Linked DNA regions of Homo sapiens: all the other regions are linked to region 3. The links come from fine-mapping of genetic effects on gene expression. A gene starts in region 3. Each other region holds a variant in brackets. All regions are shown on one strand. Distances are from middle to middle. Region 1 has its middle 7.4 kb from the start of MRFAP1. Region 2 holds the start of S100P (S100 calcium binding protein P). Region 3 holds the start of MRFAP1L2 (Morf4 family associated protein 1 like 2).

Evidence for each region. PIP is the estimated chance that this variant, and not a neighbour inherited with it, causes the effect.
Region 1: its variant is fine-mapped to the expression of MRFAP1L2 in atrial appendage (GTEx, PIP 0.95).
Region 2: its variant is fine-mapped to the expression of MRFAP1L2 in whole blood (TOPMed, PIP above 0.99).

What each region holds. Positions count from the first base shown.
Region 1 is chr4:6,643,956-6,652,252 of GRCh38, forward strand. No RefSeq gene overlaps it. Among named protein-coding and RNA genes, the nearest start is that of MRFAP1, 7.4 kb to the left of the region's middle. The variant A/C (reference allele first, on the strand shown) is at 3,432.
Region 2 is chr4:6,691,173-6,699,172 of GRCh38, forward strand. S100P (S100 calcium binding protein P) reads left to right here and starts at 2,706. Exons shown (of 2, transcript NM_005980.3): 1 at 2,706-2,898; 2 at 5,721-5,998. The coding sequence starts at 2,761. The coding sequence ends at 5,870. RefSeq lists enhancers at 1,390-1,927, 2,237-2,973, 2,974-3,709, 4,912-5,674. The variant T/C (reference allele first, on the strand shown) is at 3,625.
Region 3 is chr4:6,670,565-6,678,564 of GRCh38, forward strand. MRFAP1L2 (Morf4 family associated protein 1 like 2) reads left to right here and starts at 3,511. Exons shown (of 1, transcript NM_138699.3): 1 at 3,511-5,483. The coding sequence starts at 3,649. The coding sequence ends at 4,008. It overlaps LINC02482 (long intergenic non-protein coding RNA 2482), which reads right to left and starts at 3,317. Exons shown (of 2, transcript NR_134665.1): 1 at 3,120-3,317; 2 at 164-429. RefSeq lists an enhancer at 2,505-3,113 and a silencer at 3,586-3,815.

The DNA.
Region 1 (8,297 bases), 26 kb before region 3:
CCCAGCTTCCCAGTTCCCCTCTCAGGAAACTAGAAGTTTCTTATACATCCTTACAAATACTAATGTGTTTGAACGGCTTCCACTTTTTTTTGTTTTTGGTGAGACAGGGTCTCTGTGTCTCACAGGCTGGAATGCAGTGTTGTGACCACTCACTGCAGCCTTGACTTCCTGGTGTCAGGTGATCCTCCCACCTCAGCCTCCCTGGTAGCTGGGACCAGGCATACACCACCATTTCTGGCTAATTTTTGTATTTTTTTTTTTTTTTTTTTGTGGAGGTGGGGTTTCGCTATTTGTCCAGGCTGGTCTTGAACTCTTGGGCTCAAGTGATCACCTTAGCCTCCTGAGTAACTGGAACACCACCGCGGTTAATTTTTGTATTTTTTGTAGACAGTTGTTTGCCATCTTGGCCATTTTGGTCTCAAATTCCTGAGCTCAAGCCATCCACCCACCTTGGCCTCCCAAAGTGCTAGCAATACAGGCATGAGCCACTGCGCCCAGGCCACCTGTTTGTTTTGTTTTGTTTTTTACATTAATGGTAGCACACTGTATAATCTGTTCGTGTCCTTCATTTGTTTACTTGGAAGTCTTTTCCTATCTAACATCTAAATCTGCATTCTTTTTTTTTTTAAGGCTGCATAGTGTTCATTCTTATGCCAGAGTTTGAAAACTATTGTCCTAAAATCTTTCCAGTAACTCCTTAGTTCCTCTTTTTTATGATTCTGGTCACAACTGCAATGCAGCCACTAATTCCCAATTGCCCCAGCTCCTGAATTTCATACTCCTGGCTTGCTAGCAATTGGAGGAGCAATCCAATCTTGCATTTTCTAAGCAAAGAATGTGGTAAGAAGCATTCTGAGAGACAGTCTTACGTGGCTGTACAGTCATTAAATTTTCTGGCTGGAGTTGCCATATTTATTTATTTGTTTATTTATTTATTGAGACAGGGTCTAACTCTGTTGCCCAGGCTGGAGTGTAGTGGCATGATCTTGGCTCACTGCAACTTCTGCCTCCCAGGGCTCAAGCAATTCTCCTGCCTCAGCCTCCCGCGTAGCTGGGGTTACATGTGGGTGCCACCATGCCCTGCTAATTTTGGCATTTTTAGTAGAGACAGGGTTTCACTATGTTGGCCAGGCTGGTCTTGAATTCCTGGCCTCAAGTGATCCACCTGCCTTGGCCTCCCAAAGTCCTGGTATTACAGGATGGCAGAGCTGGAAATAACCTCAGAGAGCAATGAAGCTTTTCTGGGTTAAAATGTAGAAGTCATTAGTGCTGTTCACCAAATAAATTCCAATTCTCTGCCTTCTAGGCACAGAGTAAGATGGCACTTTCTGGCCCCCTTGGGGTTGGGTGGGCCCACGTGATTAATTCTGGCCGATGAGCTACAAAGGAAACTTACATCTGTTGCATCCAACCCAGAACCTCCAAAGCAACACCCTGCAGAGCTGTCTCTTCCCTCTGGCACAGGAACCAGCAACATTCCAGATGGTGGCTGAGCTTAATGACCACAGTTCCCTACCAATCTATGATGAGTATATACCACAAACAAGGAAAAACCTTAGTTGTTTTAAGCCACTGAGATTTGGGGATTGTTTGTTACAATAACAACTTAGACTAAGATGACTGATACAGATATTCATTATTTCTTCCATTCCTTGTGTTTTGATGAAAGGGTTGTTCTCCCTTCTACCTGAGGCCCGTTGATCACATCCCTCCCACTAGCCCAGGCATTGTCCAACAGGTTATCTTCTGTCTCTGGCTTTCACGTGGAGCTCTTGACTTTCCTCTGCCTTCTAATGACTTCAAGGTGAAAGAAAGCGCTAGTTCAAACTCCTACTCCTGGCCATTCTCCCCCTTCCAGGCAGCAGGTAAACATGGAGTGGCTTGAGTTTCTACCATCTTCCAGAGATAAATGGGGATTTATTACCCTGGTTAACACTGTGGCCAGGTAAATCTACAAAATCCATCCAGTGCCTGCTTCAGTCACTGCCTGATATGGTTTGGCTGTGTCCCCACCCAAATCTCATCTTGTCCTGGGAGTGACCCGGTGGGAGGTCACTGAATCATGGGGTGGTTACCCCCATACTGTTCTTGTGATAGTGAGTTTCCACGAGATCTGATGGTTTTACAAGGGGCTTTTTCCCCTTTGCTCTGCACTTCTCCTTCCTGCCGCCATACGAAGAAGGACAGGTTTGCTTCCCCTTCTGCCATGATTGTAAGTTTCCTGAGGCCTCCCCAGCCATGTGGAACTGGGAGTCAATTAAACCTCTTTCCTTTATAAATTATCAGTCTCGGGTATTTCTTCATAGCAGCATGAGAACAGACTAATACACAGCCCAGCATATGTTAGACCCTCTCTGAGTCAATTCTCTTTTCCCCGTCTCTGATTTCCATAATGTTCTGTGGTACCTATTTACTGGTTTATATCCCCATTGCTTCCTCCTTCAAACTCTATACCATGGTTCACAAAATCCTGCATTCCATTATTCCCAAATTAATCCATATTATTCTTTGCCTCTTCAAAGAACATTTCTTTACCAACTCTTAACAGCTGAAACTAGATTTTCCCCAAGCCCTGGGCTTCCCTGTAGCCTTGTTGGTGATGGTTCCTTACAGCACTTGCCCACTGCCTGGGGCAGATACTGCGTTCATCAGGACTGCATTTTTGCCAGAGAGGAGTGAAAAAAGAAAAAAAGAGCTTAGGGTTTTGACAAGGACATCACTGCAACAATACATGATGTACTCTGAGTGGGGAAGTATGGAGGTGAAGAGCAGGAGAGCAATAGGCGAAAGTAGCTGGTAAAGTGAATGGAGATCCCAGCATGTTAGTGACTACAGTGAAAGTGTCACCTGGAGGATGGGATGTGGCCAGAAAATAGGAGGGCTGATATTGGAAAGCAATTTATCATATTAAAAACTCTGATTGTCAAATAAAATGTATCTGTGGATGACATCCTGCGAGCTACGTGCTTCTGGGGCCTCAGATCAATTCTTGTTTTAACACCTGTGAAGCATTTACTATGTGCCAGTTACCTACAATTCCTCAAAAGCCTTTCACGACCCCTCAGTGGGGCAGATGCCATTATTAAAATTAGTCTCGTCTTATCAATGAGGCACAGAGATATTAAGTAGGCCAGGTCTGAGACAATAACAAGCCCCAAGTCACTCTTGGGAGTGAATGGCCAAGCAGGGTGGAGGAGCTCCTTGGATATGAGGGCCCAGGTGTGGGGCTGGTGGCTGTGTGAGCATGGAATTCGCTCAGGACGATGGCAGGGCTTGGGGTGGAGGGGAAGGCCAGGAGCCAGGTGCCCAAGTTTGCAGTGAATGACGGGACTCCAATGGGGTGAAAAGAGATTGGAGGATGACAGAGGTGAGAAGAGGGAGAGGACAGTCAGATGACCAGGGAGTGCTCCCAAGGAGCACCATTTTGGACA[A/C]GAGGGAGGAGAAGTAGAGTGTGGACATGGCCTGGGAGAACACTGCCCCCAAATTCTGATTGACACACGAGGGACATATAGAAATGAGTGGCTTTTCCCTCACAGGCCTGAGGATGAAATAGCACTATTCTCAGGGGTAAGGTCGGGGGAGGGCAGAGCTCCTCCAAGAAGTCAGGCACATGCTGGAGGCCCAGGAACAGGTTTGGGGGTGAAGAGGAGTGGAGAACATCACTGGAAACTTGTCCTAGGCTGAGTTCTCCTTGGTTCATCAATGGGAGAAACAGCAGTGACAGGCTAGTAAGTTTAGTCCTGAATTTAGTCTCTTTGAGGGAGGACAGGCATGGCCTTGGTGTGATCGCTATGGAGGCAAAGATGTGGCAGTTGGAGACTGTCACTCAACTGTGCTTCCTGCAGTAGCTTCTATGAATGAGCTTGGAGAGGCACCACTGCTGGTCATTTGGGGCCTCACAGGAAAGGGGTTCTGCATCCCAAACCCAAAGAGTTACGGGAGATGGCTCCAAAAGAAGCCATCTTACAGGGAAATGAGACTGAGGCCCCAAACCTTTCTCAAGCATCTTCAGTAAAGGTCCTTCCTCAGAAAGTGAGTGCCAGTCACGTGGGCAAACACCAGCTGATGACTGTCACCTTCCTGTCAAGGACACTGGCTCCACAGGGACACCACTGGGAAAGCAGGGGAAGGACAGAGCGCAGTGAGGAAAATGCCGGCATCTTCACAAGATTTGGGCTGTGGCTGCCTGCACATTGGGGCTGGCTGACAGCAAACAGGCAGGAAGCATCTGAGCGGGTCTTGTTTGTGGTGTTTTTTTTGTTTGTTTTTTTTTTTTGAGATGGAGTCTCGCATTGTCGCCCAGGCTGGAGTGCAGTGGCATGATCTCGGCTCACTGCAAGCTCTGCCTCCCGGGTTCACACCGTTCTCCTGCCTCAGCCTCCCGAGTAGCTGGGACTACAGGCAGCCGCCACCACGCCCGGCTAATTTTTTGTAATTTTAGTAGAGAAGGGGTTTCACCATGTTAGCCAAGATGGTCTTGATCTCCTGACCTCGTGATCCGCCTGCCTCGGCCTCCCAAAGTGCTGGGATTACAGGCATGAACCACCGCGCCCGGCCCCCTTGTTTGTGTTTTTATTTCTTGTTTTCCTTTTGTTTTTTTGAGACATGGGGTCTTGCTTTGCCCAAGCTGGAGTGCAGTGGTCTGATCACAGCTCACTGCAGCCTTAACCACCCAGGCTCAAGCGATCCTCCTGCCTCAGCCTCTCCAGTAGCTGGGACCACAGGCATGTACCACCTCACCTGGCTAATTTTTTTATTTTTATTTTTTAGAGAGATACGGTTTCCCTACGTTGCCCAGGCTGGTCTCAGACTCCTGGGCTCAAGCAATCCTCCTGCCTCAGTCTCCCAAAGTCATCCGAAGGTTTTGAAGGAAATATATGGCCAAAGAAATTCCAAGGTGAGTCTGCTAAAACTTGGGGTTGTTCAGCCCCTGAAGGAAGTGCTGAGCCCCAGCACCTGCACCAGCATGAAGAAGGCTTCAGAAACTGCAAAGCCCCTGGAGGGGGCAACCTCTGAGGCACATTTCATACAAGGCCTGAGAAGATAATAGATAATAAAGTCTCCCTGAGGCAAAAGCCAGGGACCTAGAGGGAAGGAGGCAAAATAGTTTCTGCTAGAGAGCAAGACCTTTGATGATCCCCAAAGGCCATAGGCACCATGTATTTCCCATTCCTCCCTTTTCCTCCCTATTCTGTGTGTTAGAAGCAAGCCAGCCCATACTCCAGGAGAGAAGAATTATGCTCCACCTACTGAAGAGATGAGTAGCAAGAAGATTGTGGACATATTTTTTTAATCTTTTCAAATTCCTTTTTATCATGTGGACGTATTTTTAAAACCACCACCACTATTGTCGTTATGAGGTAGGGGGCGGGACTCGACTCTGGAGGCAGGGTTTAGACTCCAGACCAGACTGAGACTAGCTGAAACAAGGAAGAGTTGGAAGCCTCTCCATGAGACACGCCCACCAGTGCCATCAGTTTACCATTGCCATGGCAACCCCCAGAAGTTACAGCCGCTTTCCATGGCGATGACCCAATGACACAGAAGTTACCACCTCTTTTCTAGAACTTTCTGCATAATCTACCCCTTAATTTTTTTAGTGTATTACTTTATTTATTTTTTCTTTTTATTGAGACAGAGTCTTGCACTGTCGCCCAGGCTAGCGTGCAGTGACGCGATCTCGGCTCACTGCAACCTCCGCCAACCAGGTTCGAGCGATTCTCCTGCCTCAGCCTCCCAAGTAACTAGGATTATAGGTGCCTGCCACCATGTCCAGCTAATTTTTTTGTATTTTTAGTAGAAACGGGGTTTCACTATGTTGGCCAGTCTGGTCTCGAACTCTGACCTCATGATCTGCCCACCTCAGCCTCCCAAAGCGCTGGGATTTCAGGAGTGAGCCACCACACCCAGACTTTTTTTTTATTTTTTGAGACAGAGTCTCCCTCTGTCACCCAAGCTGGAGTGCAGTGGCACGATCTCAGTTCACTGCAACCTCCACTTCCTGGGTTCAAGCAATTCTCCTGCCTCAGCCTCCCTAGTAGCTGGGATTATAGGCATGAGCCACCTCACACCCAGCTAATTTTTGTATTTCAGTAGAGACAGGGTTTCACCATGTTGGCCAGGATGGTCTCAAACTCCTGATCTCAAGCAATCCACCCACCTCAGCCTCCCAAAATGCTGGGATTACAAGCATGAGCCACCGCACCTGGCATCTACCCCTTAATTTGCATGTAATTAAAAGTGGGCATAAATATGACTGCAGAACTGCCCTGAGCAGCTCCTCTGGGCTCACTGCCTATGAGCACACCACCTGTGCTGCTACTGTGCACTGCTGCATCAATAACTCTTGCTGTCTACCACCACTGGCTCACCCTTGAATTCCTTCCTGGAGGAAGCCAAGAACCCTCCCAGGCTAAGCCCCAATTTGTCCTGCATCAGTTATATTCCCATGATATGATGTCTCTGAGACATCATAGATTCAAAAGAATCTAAACTGCCAACATTAATAATAGTTTCTAGAGTTTCAAGGTTTCTAGACACAAAAATCAATAAAAATCAGTAGTGTTTCTCTTTACCGGGAACGAAGAGGAAATATATTTTCTGAAAGGTACCACTGATAATAGAACCCAAAAACTTTTTTTTAATGGTGTGTTTCCTTGGGATACCATAACAAACTGCCACAAATTAAGTGGCTTAAAACAGAAATTTGTTTTTTCATAGTTCTGGAGTCTAAAATTAAGGTGTTGGCAGGGCCATGGGCTCTCTGAACCATCTGGGCAAGAATCTTTCCTTGCTTCTCCCTGGCTTCTGGTAATTGTCAGCAATTCTTGGCATTCCTTGGCTTGTGGCTGCGTCAGTCCAGTCTGCCTCCATTATCCCATGGCCTTCTTCCCTTTGTCTTCATGGAAGGACACCAGTCATTGCATTTAGAGCCCGCTCTCATCCAGTCTAACCTCATCTTAACTAGGTCTGCAAAGAACCTATTTTCAATAAAGTCACATTCTAAGGTTCTGGGCAGAAAAATTTTGCAGGGACATTATTCAACCCAGTACAAATGGTTGGAAAATATATATTCGTATATATTAAATTTTTAATATGTGAAAAACCATTATGCATAAAATTATGTTGAAATACATTAAATAATGACAAAATAGATTAAGAAAATTAGTATCATAATTATTCTCCAAACTGCTCCCACAAATCAAGGCAGTCCCAATAAAAATCTCTTCAGATGGGTCTGTTTTGATTGTTTGGGTTGAATTTACAAAAAAAATTAATTTGAGGGCTGAGTACAGTGGCTCATGCCTGTAATCCCAGCATGTTGGGAGGCCAAGGCAGGAAGATCACTTGAGGCCAAAAATTCAAACCCAGCCTAGGCTACATAGTAAGACCCCATCTCTACCAAAAAAAAAAAAAAAATTAGCTGTGTGTGGTGGTGCATGCCTGTAGTCCCAACTACTCAGGAGGCTGAGGCAGGAGGATTGCTTGAGCCTGGGAGTTCCAGGCTGGAGTGAGCTATGATTGCACTACTGCACTCCAGCCTGGGCAACAGAGCAAGGCCCTGTCTCTAAAACTAAAATAAAAATAAAAACCATGAATTTGGCTGGGCATAATGGCTCACACTTGTAATCCCAGCACTTTGGGAGGTGGAGGCAGGCATATCACTTGAGCCCAGGAGTTCAAGATCAGCCTGGGCAACATGGCAAAACCTAGTCTCTACAAAAAATTTAAAAATTAGCTGCATGTGGTGGCAAATACCTGTAATTCCAGCTACTCTGGAGGCTGAGGCAGGAGATCTCTTGAGTCTGGTGGGTGTGGGGAGGAGCACAGGGAACTCACAAATTTGAAATTTAGATGGACAAGCAGAAAGCCAGGATATTCCTGCAGTAGCACCAGATGGGAGGCCTTGCTATACTTTACCAAATATTAATATTTATTATAAAGCTAACAGTAATTAAGTCAATGGAGTAATGGCCCAGAGATAGGTAAAGACCAGTGGAACAGAGTATACAGCCCAGATACAGATATGAGCAAATATGGACATACGATACCTGACACACGTTACACAGCAACCCAGAAAGAATGGATAAAACAGTCAGCATGGGCCCACCGCGGTAGCTCACGCCTGTAATCCCAGCACTTTGGGAGGCCGAGGCGGGCGGATCACGAGGTCAGCAGATCAAGACCATCCTGGCCAACGTGGTGAAACTCCGTCTCTACTAAGATACAAAAAATTAGCTGGGCATGGTGGCACATGCCTGTAGTCCCAGCTACTTGGGAGGCTGAGGCAGGGGAAT
Region 2 (8,000 bases), 21 kb after region 3:
GCTTGTCCTCAGAGTTACCCAGGTGAGCTACTCCAGCAGGGGCAGCCCTGGTGGTTTGGTGACACTCCAGTGGCCTGAACGGGTGGGGGAGTGCAGCAGTTTCCACCCGATGGATGTCCTGATCCTTCCTCCCACAGCGGTGAAAGATTAAAGTGAATAGTCGGGCATGGTGGAGCGCCCCTGTAGTCCCAGCTACTGGAGAGGCTGAGGTGAGAGGATCACTTAAGCCCAGGAGTTGGAGGCTATAGTGAGCTGTGATTGAGCCACTGCACTCCACCCTGGGTGAGAAAGCAAGACACTGTCTCTAAAAGTAAATAAATGGGGCCAGGCACGGTGGCTCATGCCTGTAATTCCAGCACTTTGGGAGGCCGAGGTGGGCAGATCACTTGAGGTTAGGAGTTCAAGACCAGCCTGGCCAACATGGTAAAACCCCATCTTTACTAAAAATACAAAAATTAGCTAGACAAGGTGGTGCATGCCTATAATCCCAGCTACTCAGGAGGCTGAAGCAGGAGAATCACTTGAACCAGGAGGCAGGGGTTGCAGTGAGCCAAGATCGTGCCACTGCACTCCAGCCTGGGTGATAGAGCGAGACTCCGTCTCAAAAAATAAATAAAAATAAATAAATAAATAAAAATTTTAAAACAAAGTGATGACCGGACTGGCCAACATGGTGAAACCCCCAAAAAATTAGCCTGGTGTGGTGGTACATGCCTGTAGTCCCAGCTACTCGGGAGGCTGAGGCTGGAGAATCACTTGAAACCGGGAAGTGGAAGTTGCAGTGAGCCGAGATCACACCACTGCACTCCAGCCTGGGCAACAGAGTGAGACTCCATCGCAAACAAACAAACAAACAAACAAAAAATATATGTGTGTGTATATCTATATATATATGTGTGTGTATATACATATGTGTGTGTGTATATATGTGTGTGTGTATATATGTGTGTATACATATATGTGTATATATGTGTATATATATGTGTGTGTGTGTGTGTGTATATATATATCTATATAACGCAGTGAATGCCCTTCCTGAGGAGCACTGCCTCTGGGGTAGGGAGCCTCCTTCTCTCTCCCACTTCTCTGGCTGGGGTGGTATGATGGTGGCCTGTGCTGTGCGACCTTATCCCAAGAGGGAACTGCCCAGCTCAGGAGTGAGCAGAATGGACCTGTCCCTGCTCCCCAAGGGGTCACCAGTGGGGCCAGTCTGAGCCTCCACTGCAGGACACCTGGGCAGAGGCAGTGTGTTCTGAGAAAGCCGGCTCTTGTGAGACCTGCTGCTGCCATCGTGCACCAAGGTTTTTCTATGTTGAGCCACAGCCCCGTGGGGAGAGTCTCGGCCCATGTGCTGGTGGAGGCTGTGTTGGGAGAGGTTAGGGAACTTGCTGGAGGCTGACACTCTGGAAGATCTCTGCTGAGAGAGAGGCCTTTGAGTGTGGGCCTACTTTGACCGGGGCAGGATGTGAACACAGGCCCCTACCTCCATGCTCTCCAGGACTCGCTCAGCCTCCCAAGCACAGACCCTCTGAGTACCTCCGCTATAGAGACGGGGAGGGGTGTGACTGTCCCTGACTCTGCCCAGAGTCCCAGGAGCCTTTGTGCCGTCTAAGCCCTGTGGGTGATTTGGGTTTGGTAAGTGCCGGGGCTCAAAAAACAACACCCCAACGTGGAAGCCTCAGAAACAAAAGTTTCTCTGTCCTGCTCCCACCCTCCTGTCTCCAGCTCCTCCTCCTCTGAGAGGCTTCCCCAAACCCTGCCATAAAACCCAGAAATATGACTCCAGTTCTCCACTCCCTCCCCTTTCTGTGTAGAAACCAGCCTAAAGAAACCCTCTGGCCTGCTTTATTTGACTGTAGGTCATAAGAGCTCCATTCCAGAAAGAGTCCTGCCCCACACCTAGAAGGAAGGAGAGCTGCTCAGAGAGGCCCCAGGGAATCTGACTCAACAGGCCCTACCAGGCTCTCCTCTTGGTCTGTGAGCATCCAGCCTTACTTTTGTATCCAATCATATTTCCATACTTCGCTGAACTGTGTTTATGGATAGTTTCCACCAGATCTTTGGATCTTCATCTTGAAGGCTGCCGTGCCACATAAGCTATGATCAAATACATCTGTTATGCTCTTCTCCTATTCATCTGCCTTCTGCCCGTTGATTTTCAGCAAACTCCCAGAGGATGAAGGGGAGTTTTCTGTTTGGCCCCACAGGGGAGGAGCGAGCGAGATTGACGTGGAAGCTGGGCCTCTGAAGGACACAGAGTGCTCTAAGAAAGGGACGATGGGGCAGATCCATGTTCACAAACACGCCCATGTGAATTCACTCTCAGATGTCTCCTCGTGTCAGCACGCTGGGTGCCAGCACGCTCTGATATTGACACAAAGGGCCACGGAGTCACCACTCACTCCACACACACTCACCCCGTGCCCACTTACCCAGGGAGGGCCAGGAATGAGGATGCCACTGTGGCTCAGTGATGGCGCCGAGACACAGGTGAACACTGTAAAATGTGGATGCCTGGAGGCAGCCCACACCCTGGGCCTTGGCTGGGGGAAAGGTTCCAGAAACGTCATCACAACGATGCATTTCATCAGAACTGAGCACATGAATGGGGAGGGGCAGGACTTCCTGAATGTCCCAACCCCACTGTCCCACCCTCTGTGTCAATATGAGGCTGCCTTATAAAGCACCAAGAGGCTGCCAGTGGGACATTTTCTCGGCCCTGCCAGCCCCCAGGAGGAAGGTGGGTCTGAATCTAGCACCATGACGGAACTAGAGACAGCCATGGGCATGATCATAGACGTCTTTTCCCGATATTCGGGCAGCGAGGGCAGCACGCAGACCCTGACCAAGGGGGAGCTCAAGGTGCTGATGGAGAAGGAGCTACCAGGCTTCCTGCAGGTGAGCCAGGCCGGCAGTGCTGGACTCAGCGGGGGCTGGGGAAGAAGGGGAAGGCGTGGCAGGCAGAGGGCTGAGAGCTGCGGTGGGGTCGGCGGTCAAGGGGCTCAGAGGCAAGAGGGACAGATCCTGAAATGCCCTGGAAGCCCAGCCAAGGAACGGACCCACCCTGGCATAAAGGCAGGGGAGGCGGGAGCATCTGAGCAGGGAGAGGGTGTGGTCAGCTTGATCCTTGAAACATGGGGTTGACCCCAGTGTATTTGTGACAGGCCTGGTGGGAGAGTGGGACTCAAACCTGTGCAGTGGGGGCAGGGGCGGAATGCAATCCAGGGCTGCCATTTGCAAGTTTGCCAAGCTTGCCAAGCCCTTGAGCCCTCGGGGCTGTCCTCCAAGGCTGCCGGCCATAAACGCCCCAGCTCTGCCTCCCACTTGCCCGCTTTCCCTGCTCCCATTCCCAGGCCCCTTGTTGCCTGGTATTAGTGGGTCTGGCAGGAAGGACGGGAGGAGGCTCCATCCTGGCACCTGTCTGCGCAGAGCTGTGGACCTCCCTTGGGCTCCCTGCCAGGGAGGAGCCACCGGCCTGAGCCTCACAGAAGGCCCCTCAGGGCGGCCAGGACCAGCTTCCTTCCGCCCGGGGCAGCCTCCGGCTGGGCTGAACAGAAGCCGTACCCTCTCCATTTCCCCTTCCCTTTGACCCCTGTCCTCTCCTTCTTTCTCACTCCCCCACTT[T/C]CTTCCTTCCTTCCCCTCCCCTTCGGGCCCCACCAGACTCTGCCTACCTGCTAAGGGGCTAACCCACATAGATGCTGATAATCAAAAATGAAAGCCTGAAATTTTCAGCCCTAGAATCACTTCAAAGACATGAAACACTTCAGAATATTGCTTCTATTTTCTTTTCTTTTCTTTTTTTTTTTTTTTGAGACAAGATGTCACTCTGTCACCCAGGCTGGAGTGCAGTGGCAGGATCACGGCTCACTGCAGCCTCGACCTCCCTGGGCTCAGGTGATCCTCCCACCTCAGCCTACCGAGTAGCTGGGACTACAGGTGCATGTCACCATACCCGGTTAATTTTTGTATTTTTTTTAGAGACAAGGTCTCACCATGTTGCCCAGGCTGGTCTCAAACTCCTGTGCTCAGGCAATGCGTCAGCCTCGACATCTCAAAGTGCTGTGATTACAGGCGTGAGCCCCGACACCTGGCCTAGTTCTATTTTCTAAATGTGAATTCTGTAAAGATATCTTTTAAAAATAAAGTTCTGTTTTTGGTAGAAAATGTAAAAATAGATAAATATGGAGGGAAGAAATCCCCCCTGGAATACAGACGCTTCCTCTCCCTTCCAGCCTTTTCCCCATATGAACATTGCTGTGAGTGAGATTTACATGCAATGTAATTTCTTTTTGAGCTTAACATTACAACATAAATTCTCAAACTCTGATGTTCATTAAACACCCCAGCCCCATCCTGGGAACTTGGGCTTGGGGCTCGGGGTGTTCTGATAATGATCAAAGTATGAGAATTGAACCCATGAGGACTTTGATCCAAGATACTGGGGTGTGGGGAGGGGCAGGCACAGGTGTCCTGGGAACACACTTTGAGAAGCAATGGCAAAGCTGGGGGTCCAGCTAATGTGTTACATTAGAATCACCTCGGGGAGGCCCTGGGTGCCCTTCTCAGCCCTCCCTCCGGAGGCTGCTGAAGCCCAGCAAAGCCGGAGTCAGAGAACAATGTCCGCCTGAGGGCAGGGCTGGGCTGGGCTGGCCTTCTGGCCCTATCTGCTCCGTGCCCAACCCAGCGCCCCGCACAGTCGGAGCTTTGTAAATACGAGGTGACTGTCTGCCTACAAACTTTGTAAACATCACTTGAAATGGCCGCAGGGTATTGTGACATGGCCATACCACTATTTGTTTGCTATTGAATTTGTACTTCCCTGCCTTACTTTTGCTATTGCAAACCATGCTGTCACTAAGGTCTTCATGCACACAGTTGTGTCTTGGTCAGATGATATGTTTCTACCAATTTTAATTGTGTTTCTTTCCACCTGGACACACAGCTCTCTGGCCCAGGGCTGGGTCATCAGCACACCCTGCTGCTGCTGTTCAGATCTGCATCCTGGTCCCGCTTGGTCCCACAGTGAGAACGCTTTGCTATCACATGGGCAGGCTCTGAGAGCCCTGCCGGCCTGGCCTTCTCAAAGAAGACCTGAGAGCTTGGGACCCAAGCAGAGAGGAAGAACAGGGCTCAGGGTGCTTGCTCCATGCTCGCTCCACACCTGGGGCTCAACCCTGGCTTTCCCCGGCTCCCTGTGTGACTTCAGGGCAGGTCCCTTGGGCCCTCTGGGCCTTATCATCTTCATCTGTAACAGGGCGATGCCTCTGCCGTGTCTGGTGGTGTTGAGGAGTTCCTGTTTGTGTAAGCAGCTAGTTCAGTGCCAGCACGAGATGGGAGGCCCATGAAGTTAGCAGTGCACAAAAAATAGAGCAAAGACTGGATGCATTTCCTGAGAACAACCATCACTGTAAAGCACTTTACAAATCCAAAGACAACCCCCGGCAAAAACTCAAAATGAAACTCCCTCTCGCAGAGCACAATTCCAATTCGCTCTAAAAACATTACAAGTTAGTTCATGTCATGCCAGATAGCTGAAGGCAGCTCACAAGTTCTTAAGGCCAGGAATGCCATGTGTCTGCTATGCACAGCTGGCCCTGGCCCTGACAGCAAAGGTGACGCAGATGTGGGTGCCCTGCTCCTGCCCAGCAGCAGTGCTTGGTGGAGGCTGAGGCCCTGCACAGGCACCCTCACTGCTGACCTTGAGCCTCTCTCTCCTCTAGAGTGGAAAAGACAAGGATGCCGTGGATAAATTGCTCAAGGACCTGGACGCCAATGGAGATGCCCAGGTGGACTTCAGTGAGTTCATAGTGTTCGTGGCTGCAATCACGTCTGCCTGTCACAAGTACTTTGAGAAGGCAGGACTCAAATGATGCCCTGGAGATGTCACAGATTCCTGGCAGAGCCATGGTCCCAGGCTTCCCAAAAGTGTTTGTTGGCAATTATTCCCCTAGGCTGAGCCTGCTCATGTACCTCTGATTAATAAATGCTTATGAAATGATCCTGGTCTCAGAGAAACTGGTTATTTCCTTAAAACCTCAGTGTCCTCTCCCCACAAAACAGAATTCACTAATTAAACTTGTCATTTCATTACTCATTGCCTGCCTGCAGTGGTGAGACAGATGAAGAAGACAAGGCAGTCGATAAAAATCCATTTGTTGGCCATCTTCTGAGTGCCCACTGAGACACAGTCCCACCTTTGGCCGTGTGAATGCCACCATGTCCTGGACCCAAGGGAGGCTCGGGTACACACATCCATGTATTTATTCATCTACTTCGTAATTCATTTAGTCGGTCACGTAGCCACTCATTGAACCTGGGCCCCTCCATCTCTCCAAACAGCATGTTTTCTTCAAGTAACATACTTCTAATATTTATTTATTTTTGAGACGGAGTCTCGCTCTTGTCACCCAGGCTGGAATGCAATGGCGCCATCTCAGCTCACTGCAACCTCCGCCTCTTGGGTTCAAGTGATTCTCCTGCCTCAGCCTCCCGAGTACCTGGGACTGCAGGCACCCGCAAAACCACACCTGGCTACTTTTTGTATTTTTAGTAGAGACGGGGTGTCACCATGTTGGCCAGGCTGGTCTCGAACTCCTGATTTCAGGTGATCTGCCCACCTCAACCTCCCAAAGTGCTGGGATTACAGGTGTGAGCCACTGCGCCTCGCAAAGTAACATATCTTTTTTTCTTTTTTTTTTTTTTTGAGACGGAGTCTCACTGTGTTGCCCAGGCTGGAGTGCAATGGTGCGATCTTGGCTCACTGCCAGCTCCGCCTCCCAGGTTCACGCCATTCTCCTGCCTCAACCTCCTGAGTAGCTGGGACTACAGGTGCCCACCACCACGCCCGGCTAATTTTTTGTATTTTTAGTAGAGACAGGGTTTCACCGTGTTAGCCAGGATGGTCTCGATCTCCTGAGCTCGTGATCCACCCACCTCGGCCTCCCAAAGTGCTGGGATTACAGGCTTCAGCCACCACGCCCAGACAGTAACATACTTTTAATGATGCAATGCTATTTTTGCCACAAAGACTATGAAACACCATAACAGAGAAACAATGAATTCCAAGAGAGCATTAGAATCATCAGTGAACAACTGCTCACATCACCTGTATTTAGTTTTACGACACTAATGTTGGGAGCACCCAAAAGGACTCAAGCGAGGTCTTGGATGATAGGTAGGTAACTGGATCTGGTTTTAGGACCCCTATCATTTTTTGGATACCCAGTATTTAAAGCCTCTTGCTATGTTTGAAGACATTTTCACTAGAGAAGATCTATCACCAAAAGATCCTGAACTTGGAGGTGGACACAACAATACGAGGCTTGGGTGGATCCCTCTTTGGGGAAGGGACTGCAGATTGCAAATATTTTTGCTAGAGAGAGAGTCGTGTTAGGTTAGATGGGAGCAGATACACACATTTAAATAAAGTAAAAACTAATAATGAGGGAGAAGTAAAGTTAATAATGGGGGAAACAAAAGGGGTGGACTGCCAGAATGGAAATCTTTGTTTCTTTTTTCCTTTGAGAGACGGCCTTGCCCTGTCACCCAGTCTGGAATGCAGTGGTGCTATCGTGGCTCACTGCAATCTTTTTTTTTTTTTTGAGACGGAGTCTTGCTCTGTCGGCCAGGCTGGAGTGCAGTGGTGTGATCTCAGCTCACTGCAAGCTCCACCTCCCGGGTTCACGCCATTCTCCTGCCTCAGCCTCCCGAGTAGCTGGGACTACAGGTGCCTGCTACCAAGCCTGGCTAATTTTTTGTAATTTTTAGTAGAGACAGGGTTTCACCATTTTAGCCAGGATGGTCTCGAGGCTCACTGCAATCTTAAACTCCTGGGCTGAAGCAATCTTCCTGCCTCAGCCTCCCAAGTAGCTGGGACCACAAGAACGCACCATCGCGGCTGGCTAATTTTTTGTAGAGACGGGGTTTTGCTATATTGCCCAGGTTGGTCTTGAACTCCTGGGCTCAAATGATCCTCCCAACTCAGCCTCCCAAAGTGTAGA
Region 3 (8,000 bases):
CATCACACTTCTGAAAAGGGCATTTTAAAATGCGCCAGTTTGGGCTACTGAGCCTGCTTTCTGCCGGTGGAAAGATTGGGAGTCTAGAAGTCCTTTGACACTTTGAACTGTCGCTTGGATAAGCTAGAGCATTTTTGCTAATATGTTCACCTCGAAACTTTTGTGGGTTTCCATGTATTTTATTCCATTCCACTCATACCAAGAGACAATTCTTTTTGAGGTGTGTTTAGCTCTCTAGACTTAATTACTGCTGTGTTTGTCACATTGGCTGCAGTGAGATCGTGACATTAGGATTCCTGGGAGCCTGCGCTGGGCAGAATTTAAGATGGCTCCTCCATGATCTTCACTCTCTGGGTGAAAACTGTCGGTCAGCCCATGCCCAGGATTGTTGATCAGTGCTGAAGGTCCTGAGGCTGTTTTTAGCATAGTCTAAAACTTAAGCAAAGCAATAATTATAATTGAGCAAGCAAAATTGTTCTTTAACATGGAATCGATGCTGTTACACAACCACATAAGCACTATTTTAGTCCGTTCACGCTGCTCTAACAAAATACCAGAAACTGGGTGTCTTCTAAACAACAGAAATGTATTTTCTGAGTTCTGAAGGCTGAGCAGTACAAGATCACGGTGCCAGCAGGTTTGGTGCCTGGTGAGGGCCCACTTCTGGTTCATAGAAGCCCATCTTTTTGCTATAACCTCCCACAGCAGAAGGGGTAAGGCGGCCCTGTGGAGTTGTTTTATGAGGGTGCTAATCTCATTCATGAAAGCTGAGCCTTCATGACCACATCACCTCCCAAAGACCCCACCTCCTAATATCATCACATTGGGGATTGCTTTGCAACATATGAATTTTGGGGGGACTCACATATTTGGACCATGGCAAGCCCCTTAAAAGCAGAGTTTTCTCCAGCTGGGAGCAGAAGGGGATGACAGAGAGGCTGGAAGGATAAGAAGGATCCGACATGCTCTTACTGGCTTTGAAGATGGAGAGGGCCACGTTTAAGGACCGGAGAGTGACCTGTAGGAGCTGAGAGTGACCTCTGGCCATCAAGCATGGAGGGTCCCCTTAACTTTCTGCTAGAGGTACACAGTGAATAAGCCTAGACACAATGACATGCAGTGGGTGCTTAATAAAGATCTCTTGGGAAATGAGCATTAAAGCAACATTTACTGGGCTCCTGCTGTATGCCAAGCCCATTTCAAGCTGAGGAAACAGATGACTAAACTGACTAAGTACCTGCCCCTAGGGCCTGTTTTCTCGCAGAGGCACTTATATAGTCCAGTGAAGAAAGAAATCTTCCAGAATGATTCCTAAAGGCATATTCAGAGCCTGGCAGGGCTGAGGAAACAGTGGTGAATCAGACCCACCTTGGCCTTGGGTGCCCACAGTGGGTAAAGCCAGACTCCAACTTACAGCCAAAGCCCCAGGCAGAGTGAAGCTTATACCCTTAGGAAAAAAGTAGGGGGAGGCTGGGTCACAGCACTCAGCATCAGCACCGAGGCCGCAGCTCTGTGTTCCAGGAGCATCTGCCCGAGGCAAGAGGGAGCGGAGGCCCTGGCTGGGGGCAAATCCCGACGCTGTGAGCACCTGGCTTCTCGGAGCCTGGAATATTCTAACGGGACCACTGAATTCGGTTGTTTATTATTTTTATTTATTTATTTTGAGACAGGGTCTCGCCCTGTCACTGGGCTGGGGTGCAGTGGCGCAATCAGGCGTTCAGAGCTCACCTCGGTCTCGACCTGCTGGGCTCAAGCAATCTTCCCGGCTCAGCCTCTCAAGTAGCTGGGACTATCGGCACGCGCCACCACGCCCAGCTAATTTCTTGTGTTTTTTTTGGTAGGGTTTTTTCCCTTGTTGCCCAGGCTGGTATGGAACTCCTGAGCTCAAGCGATCCTCTCACCTCAGCCTCCCAAAGTGCTGGGATTATAGGCGTGAGCCACACGCCCGGCCTGGGTGTTTATGATTTAGAATGTTGGTGAGAGGTGACAGTGTGCTGGCAGTCCTCACAGCCCTCGCTCACTCTCGGTGCCTCCTCTGCCTGGGCTCCCACTTTGGCAGCACTTGAGGAGCCCTTCAGCCCACTGCTGCACTGTGGAGGCCCCTTTCTGGGCTGGCCAAGGCCAGAGCCGGCTCTCTCAGCTTGCAGGGAGGTGTGGAGGGAGAGGCGCGAGCGGGCACCGGGGCTGCACACGGCGCTTGCGGGCCAGCTGGAGTTCAGGGTGGGCGTGGGCTTGGTGGGCCCCGCACTCGGAGCAGCCGGCTGGCCCTGCCAGCCCCCGGCAATGAGGGGCTTAGCACCCGGGCCAGCGGCTGCGGAGGGTGTACTGGGTCCCTCAGCAGTGCCAGCCCACCGGCGCTGTGCTCGATTTCTCACCGGGCCTTAGCTGCCTTTCCGAGGGGCAGGGCTCGGGACCTGCAGCCCGCCATGCCTGAGCCTCCCACCCCCTCCATGGGCTCCTGTGCTGCCCGAGCCTCCTCGACGAGCACCACCCCCTGCTCCACGGCGCCCAGTCCCATCACCACCCAAGGGCTGAGGAGTGTGGGCGCACGGTGCCGTTCTCGCAGGCAGCTCCACCTGCAGCCCTGGTGTGGGATCCACTTGGTGAAGCCAGCTGGGCTCCTGAGTCTGGTGGGGATGTGGAGAACCTTTATGTCTAGCTCAGGGATTGTAAATACACCAATCAGCACCGTGTGTCTAGCTCAGGGTTTGTGAATATACCAATCGACTCTGCTGGGGCCTTGGAGAACCTTTGTGTCTAGCTCAGGGATTGTAAACGCACCAATCAGCACCCTGTCAAAACAGACCACTCGGCTCTACCAATCAGCAGGATGTGGGTGGGGCCAGATAAGACAATAAAAGCAGGCTGCCGGAGCCAGCAGTGGCAACCGGCTCAGGTCCCCTTCTATTGTGGAAGCTTTGTTCTTTCTCTCTTTGCAATAAATCCTGCTGCTGCTCACTCTTTGGGTCCACACTGCCTTTATGAGCCGTAACAGGTCTGCAGTTTCACTCCTGAGCCGGCGAGACCACGAACCCACCAGAAGGAAAAAACTCCGAACACATCCGAACATCAGAAGGAACAAACTCCAGACGCGCCACTTTAAGAGCTGTAACACTCACCGCGAGGGTCCGTGGCTTCATTCTTGAAGTCAGTGAGACCAAGAACCCACCAATTCCGGACACATTGGGAACTTAGAGCAGTGCTTGGGACATGGTTATCAGCGTCAGATATTTCCTTAAACTAGCGTGAAGTCGACTTTAACCTTCCAGCAGTGTGAGTGAGGGCCCTGACCCTAGAATCAACGCCCAAAGAGCTGTGGCGCTACAGCGGGCGGGGACATGGGGTGCGCATGCGTGCGGGGGGGTACGCGTGCGTGCAAGTGCGCGTGCGCGCGCAGGACCGCTGAGGCGGGAGCCCCGAATGCGGTTCTCGCTTGCTGCGTGGCGGTAAAGGACCGCAGGTGTCGTAAAAGGGCCGCAGTGGCAGCGTCCTGGCCGACGGCTAGTAGCCCATTTTGGATACCGTCCTCGCTGCGGAAAGTTGGGGCAACCTGTTGCTAGTCTGGTCGTTGGTGACAGCGAGGCTTCCGCGCTCGCTGCTGGTGAGCAGCCCCGGCGTGCCCCGCGGGCTGGAAGAGGCGGCGGCGTGATGCGGCCCGTGGACGCGGACGAGGCGCGGGAGCCCCGCGAGGAGCCGGGCAGCCCGCTGAGCCCCGCGCCCCGCGCCGGCCGCGAGAACCTGGCCTCCCTGGAGCGCGAGCGCGCCCGGGCGCACTGGCGGGCCCGCAGGAAGCTGCTGGAGATCCAGAGCCTGCTCGACGCCATCAAGAGTGAGGTGGAGGCAGAGGAGCGGGGCGCCCGGGCCCCAGCACCCCGCCCGCGTGCGGAGGCTGAGGAGCGGGTGGCTCGGCTGTGCGCCGAAGCAGAGAGGAAGGCTGCGGAGGCGGCGCGGATGGGCAGGCGGATCGTGGAGCTGCACCAGCGGATCGCCGGCTGCGAGTGCTGCTGAGCCGGCGAGGCCGCGCGGGTCTGGAGCGGAGCGCGGCGGGGAGTGTCCCGCGTGGAAGGCGCTGGGTAGGCAGGGAGGGGAGCGCAGAGCCGTGCCACGCTCTCCGCGGAGTTGGTTTCATTCTTTTTTCATAGGTAATTAGAGAAAATAATTTGATATGTTGTTGTAAAGAGTCATGACCACTGGAAGTATTTTCAGGACGTAGACCTGGTGGGTCACTACGTGGGGGGAGAGAGGTGTGAAGCGGAGGTACATGCTGGAAACGTGTGAATGTTGTTACGAGATTGGAGCGTTTGCGATGACCTTCCTGCAGGTGGAAGCATTGTGCACAGGTGGTTGGGTTTGTTTGACTCCCGGATATGAGAATATCAAGCTCAAAATTTATGTTGTGATGATGAATTTCTCCCACTTGTACTTTAGGTGGCCAACTGACGAACTGTGTTCACCTGATAAGGAGTCGTGGCTGCTTGGACAGGCTCAAACCAAGAGAGCCTTTCGTTTTGTCTCCCCTGTTTTTCTGCCTGCGTTTTCTCCACATTAGCCACTCAATTTCCAGTACCATCCTGGCGGATGACTTCAGCATTAGATGGTCAGGTGTATTTTTTTATTAATAGGCGCATTCAGTTTGGAAAAGACAGCTTTTCATTAATGTCCCACGTAAAGGAATATGGCCTATACAGTACGTACGCTGCTGCGTGGTCATATTTGTTCCTGTGATCTTATTGTATTTTCAAAGTTTGGAAGTATACTCGTGTGCTTTGCTGTTTTTTTATGCTTCCTGGAATTTGGGGACTCATGAGAGACTTGAGGTTAGAGTTCTGCAAGTGAGAAGACACTACATGGTTGCAGCTGCCACATGAAGAACCCAAGCTCCTGTCAAAGTTGTGAATGCGACTTTGGATGAGATTAAGAAGGCCCAGTGGACGGTTGGTCTTGAAGAGTGGCAGTGTGTGGATTTGAGGACCTCTGCAGACCATCAGATCAAAGGAGGGAGAGCTGTTTTGGGTGTTTTGTTTTTTTTGTTTTTATAGCATTTTGCTTTTTCTTGGAATGTAATTTTCCTATGGCATGTTAACTGGTGCACATCGTGTAACCTGTCTGGTGAGCAACCTACAATTGGGATGAGTTCTAGGTACATGTGTTTGCTGACTTTGGGGTAAACAACTTTGTTATAATACAGTCTCTGCCACAGATGCATGTGACCTCTTCAGGGGCCCAGAGTGGCTGAGGAAGGAAAGCTTCAAGCTGGCCATGGGGGTCCCAAACAGTCATTCCAGGCTTAGATGATGACTAGCCTAGGTCATCAGAGCCCAGACTCCACAGAGACTAAAATCAGAGCTCTGTCTTGTTATGATAAATTTCATTTGCTTGGAAAAAGAAATGCTGAAAGCCAGTGTTTAGAATCTTTGTGCAGATGACCAAAGCAATTGACTTGGCCAAGAAAAGGTAAGGTAAATAAACATTTTTCAAAATGAGTTTCTCCTTGATAGTGGTCACTGTCAAATGGAGGAGAATTGCTTCTGACTCACGAGTTGTTCAAAGCCTGTAGCCCAGGGTGGGGTTTGAGCTGCAGAAGAAGAAGAAGGCAGACCTAGAGTAGGAAAGGGGTGCCTCATGAAGCCATATGGTCTGGCCCCAGCCTTTGGAGAGGTGAAGTCCATTCAGGCAGCTAGTGTTCACTGTGACCACAGAGCTCCACACTATGCCAGGCACTAGGAATTTCTTGGAGAGACGATCTAGTGGGTTGAGACAGGTCTGAAAACACAATTACAGTACAGTGTCCGCAATGCTGGTCTTTGATTCAACGCATAAATTGAGCACCTACAGATGCTGAGACTACCTGAGTGAACAAAGTGCTTGTAAAATTGGATCTGAGGGCCAGGCATGGTAGCTCATGCCTGTAATCCCATTTCTTTAGGAGGCCTGAGCAGGAGGATTGCTTGAGGCCAGGAGTTTGAGATCAGCCTGGGCAACATGGTGAGACCCTGTCTCTAATAGAAAAAAAAAGTTGGATTTGTTATTCATAAGATGCTTAGAATTGTGTCTGGCTATAGTAAGTGTTTCCTAAGTATTTGTTAGATAACCCCTAAATGAGGGAAGCAGGAAAAAAATGATATGTACCCATATTAAATAGTGTAAGTTCTGTGGGGGAAAAAAATGGCATTGGGGGATAGGGTGTGGGATTTCTAGTTGATTTGCATGGTCAGGTAACATGTCTGATATGACATTTGAGTGAAGGCTGATGTGTGGAATGTGCATGGGTGTCTGGGGAAAGAGTCTTCTAGGCACGGGGAACAAGTAGGGTAAAAAGGTGAGGCAGCATGAAACCCCAGTGGGAAGGGAGGAAGTGGTGGGCACCGAGGTCAGAGGGAGAAGTGGGTGGATGTGAAGCTGGTGGGGGGTTGCCAGCAGAGGAGCGATGGGAGCTGACCATCTGAGGTGGTGGCTGCTGTGCTCAGGCCTGACAGTGGGGGACCAGGACAAGAGTGGGAGGCAGCGTGGAGAGTGGAGCACGCGCTGTGTGGATGGGGACGGGTGTGGACTGCGTTGGGAAAGTGCCGAGGGCCTGCCTGTGGACATGAGAGGATTCAGCAATGGCTCTGAGGCTCGGGACCTGAGCACCTATTTAGTACCATTTGTCAAACAAACTGGGCCACTTTTGAAAGTGAAGGGTGGCTCTATTAATAGAAATTCATCTGGGACTGCAGATGTAAACAAGGACTTTCACAGGCAAAGAGGTGCTTACGCTGTGTCTGGTGGGAGGACTTAGGGAGGAGTCCCCTCAGACCCACTGACTTGCTCTGAGCGGAAGCATGGGCACAGCTACACAAACAGCACCTCAAGCATGGGGAACACGAAACAGGCCAGGGGCCCAGCGTGGGCTGCAGAGGCCGCCCGTGGATGGAAATGGGGCGGGGGGAATGGGGGATCCTTCGGGAGACCTGTCTTTGAGTCTTGTGTCTCGGGTAAGGCAAGCGCGCTTACAGTTAAATACATTTCCTTTTTTAAAAAAATTTTCCCTGGGATTGTTAAATTTGCTTTAGCAAACTTGTAAAGAGGAACATCATTATATAGGATGTCAGTGGGATGGCAGGAGTAGGTAGAAGTCTAAAACCACACAAAGGGGCCAAAAGGGAAACATTTTGCACTGGCCTGTCTCGTCTGTTACCTCCCAGCCCAATTCCCTAAGCTCCCGCCAGTGTTAGGACACTGAGGATGTGAAAATGAGAAAACAAAAGCCTGTATTACAAGAATCCACTTGGGATTAGGCACTTAACATATCTAATTTTCACAAATATCAGAGGTCATTTTATTATCCCCATTGTTCAGGTGGGGAAACTTCAGCCAAAAACAAAACAGAAAACAACCCTAGAACCTTGCCGGGAAGAATTCAACTGATGCCAAAGCTCTTTCACAACATCAGTAGCTCCTGATGTGCCATCTGCATCCTCTAACTGTCGTGATGGGGTTTTTTTTGTTTGTTTTGTTTTGTTTTTTTTGAGACGGAGTCTCGCTCTGTCGCCCAGGCCGGACTGCGGACTGCAGTGGCGCAATCTCGGCTCACTGCAAGCTCCGCTTCCCGGGTTCACGCCATTCTCCTGCCTCAGCCTCCCGAGTAGCTGGGACTACAGGCGCCCGCCACCGCGCCCGGCTAATTTTTTGTATTTTTAGTAGAGACGGGGTTTCACCTTGTTAGCCAGGATGGTCTCGATCTCCTGACCTCATGATCCACCTGCCTCGGCCTCCCAAAGTGCTGGGATTACAGGCGTGAGCCACTGCGCCCGGCCCGTGATGGTTTTTGAAACAATGGTTCAGAATGCTGACCACTCTGGAGAGGGCTGCAGCAGCAAGCCTGGGACTGAGTTTCTGGCCTCATAGAATGTTCCATGAGAGACCCTCTCTGACTGACGAGAGGTGTAAGTTGTCTCTCAGGCTAAGTGAGATTTGGAGGGCTGAATGCAGGCATCCCCGCTCTGCTCATGTCCCATGTT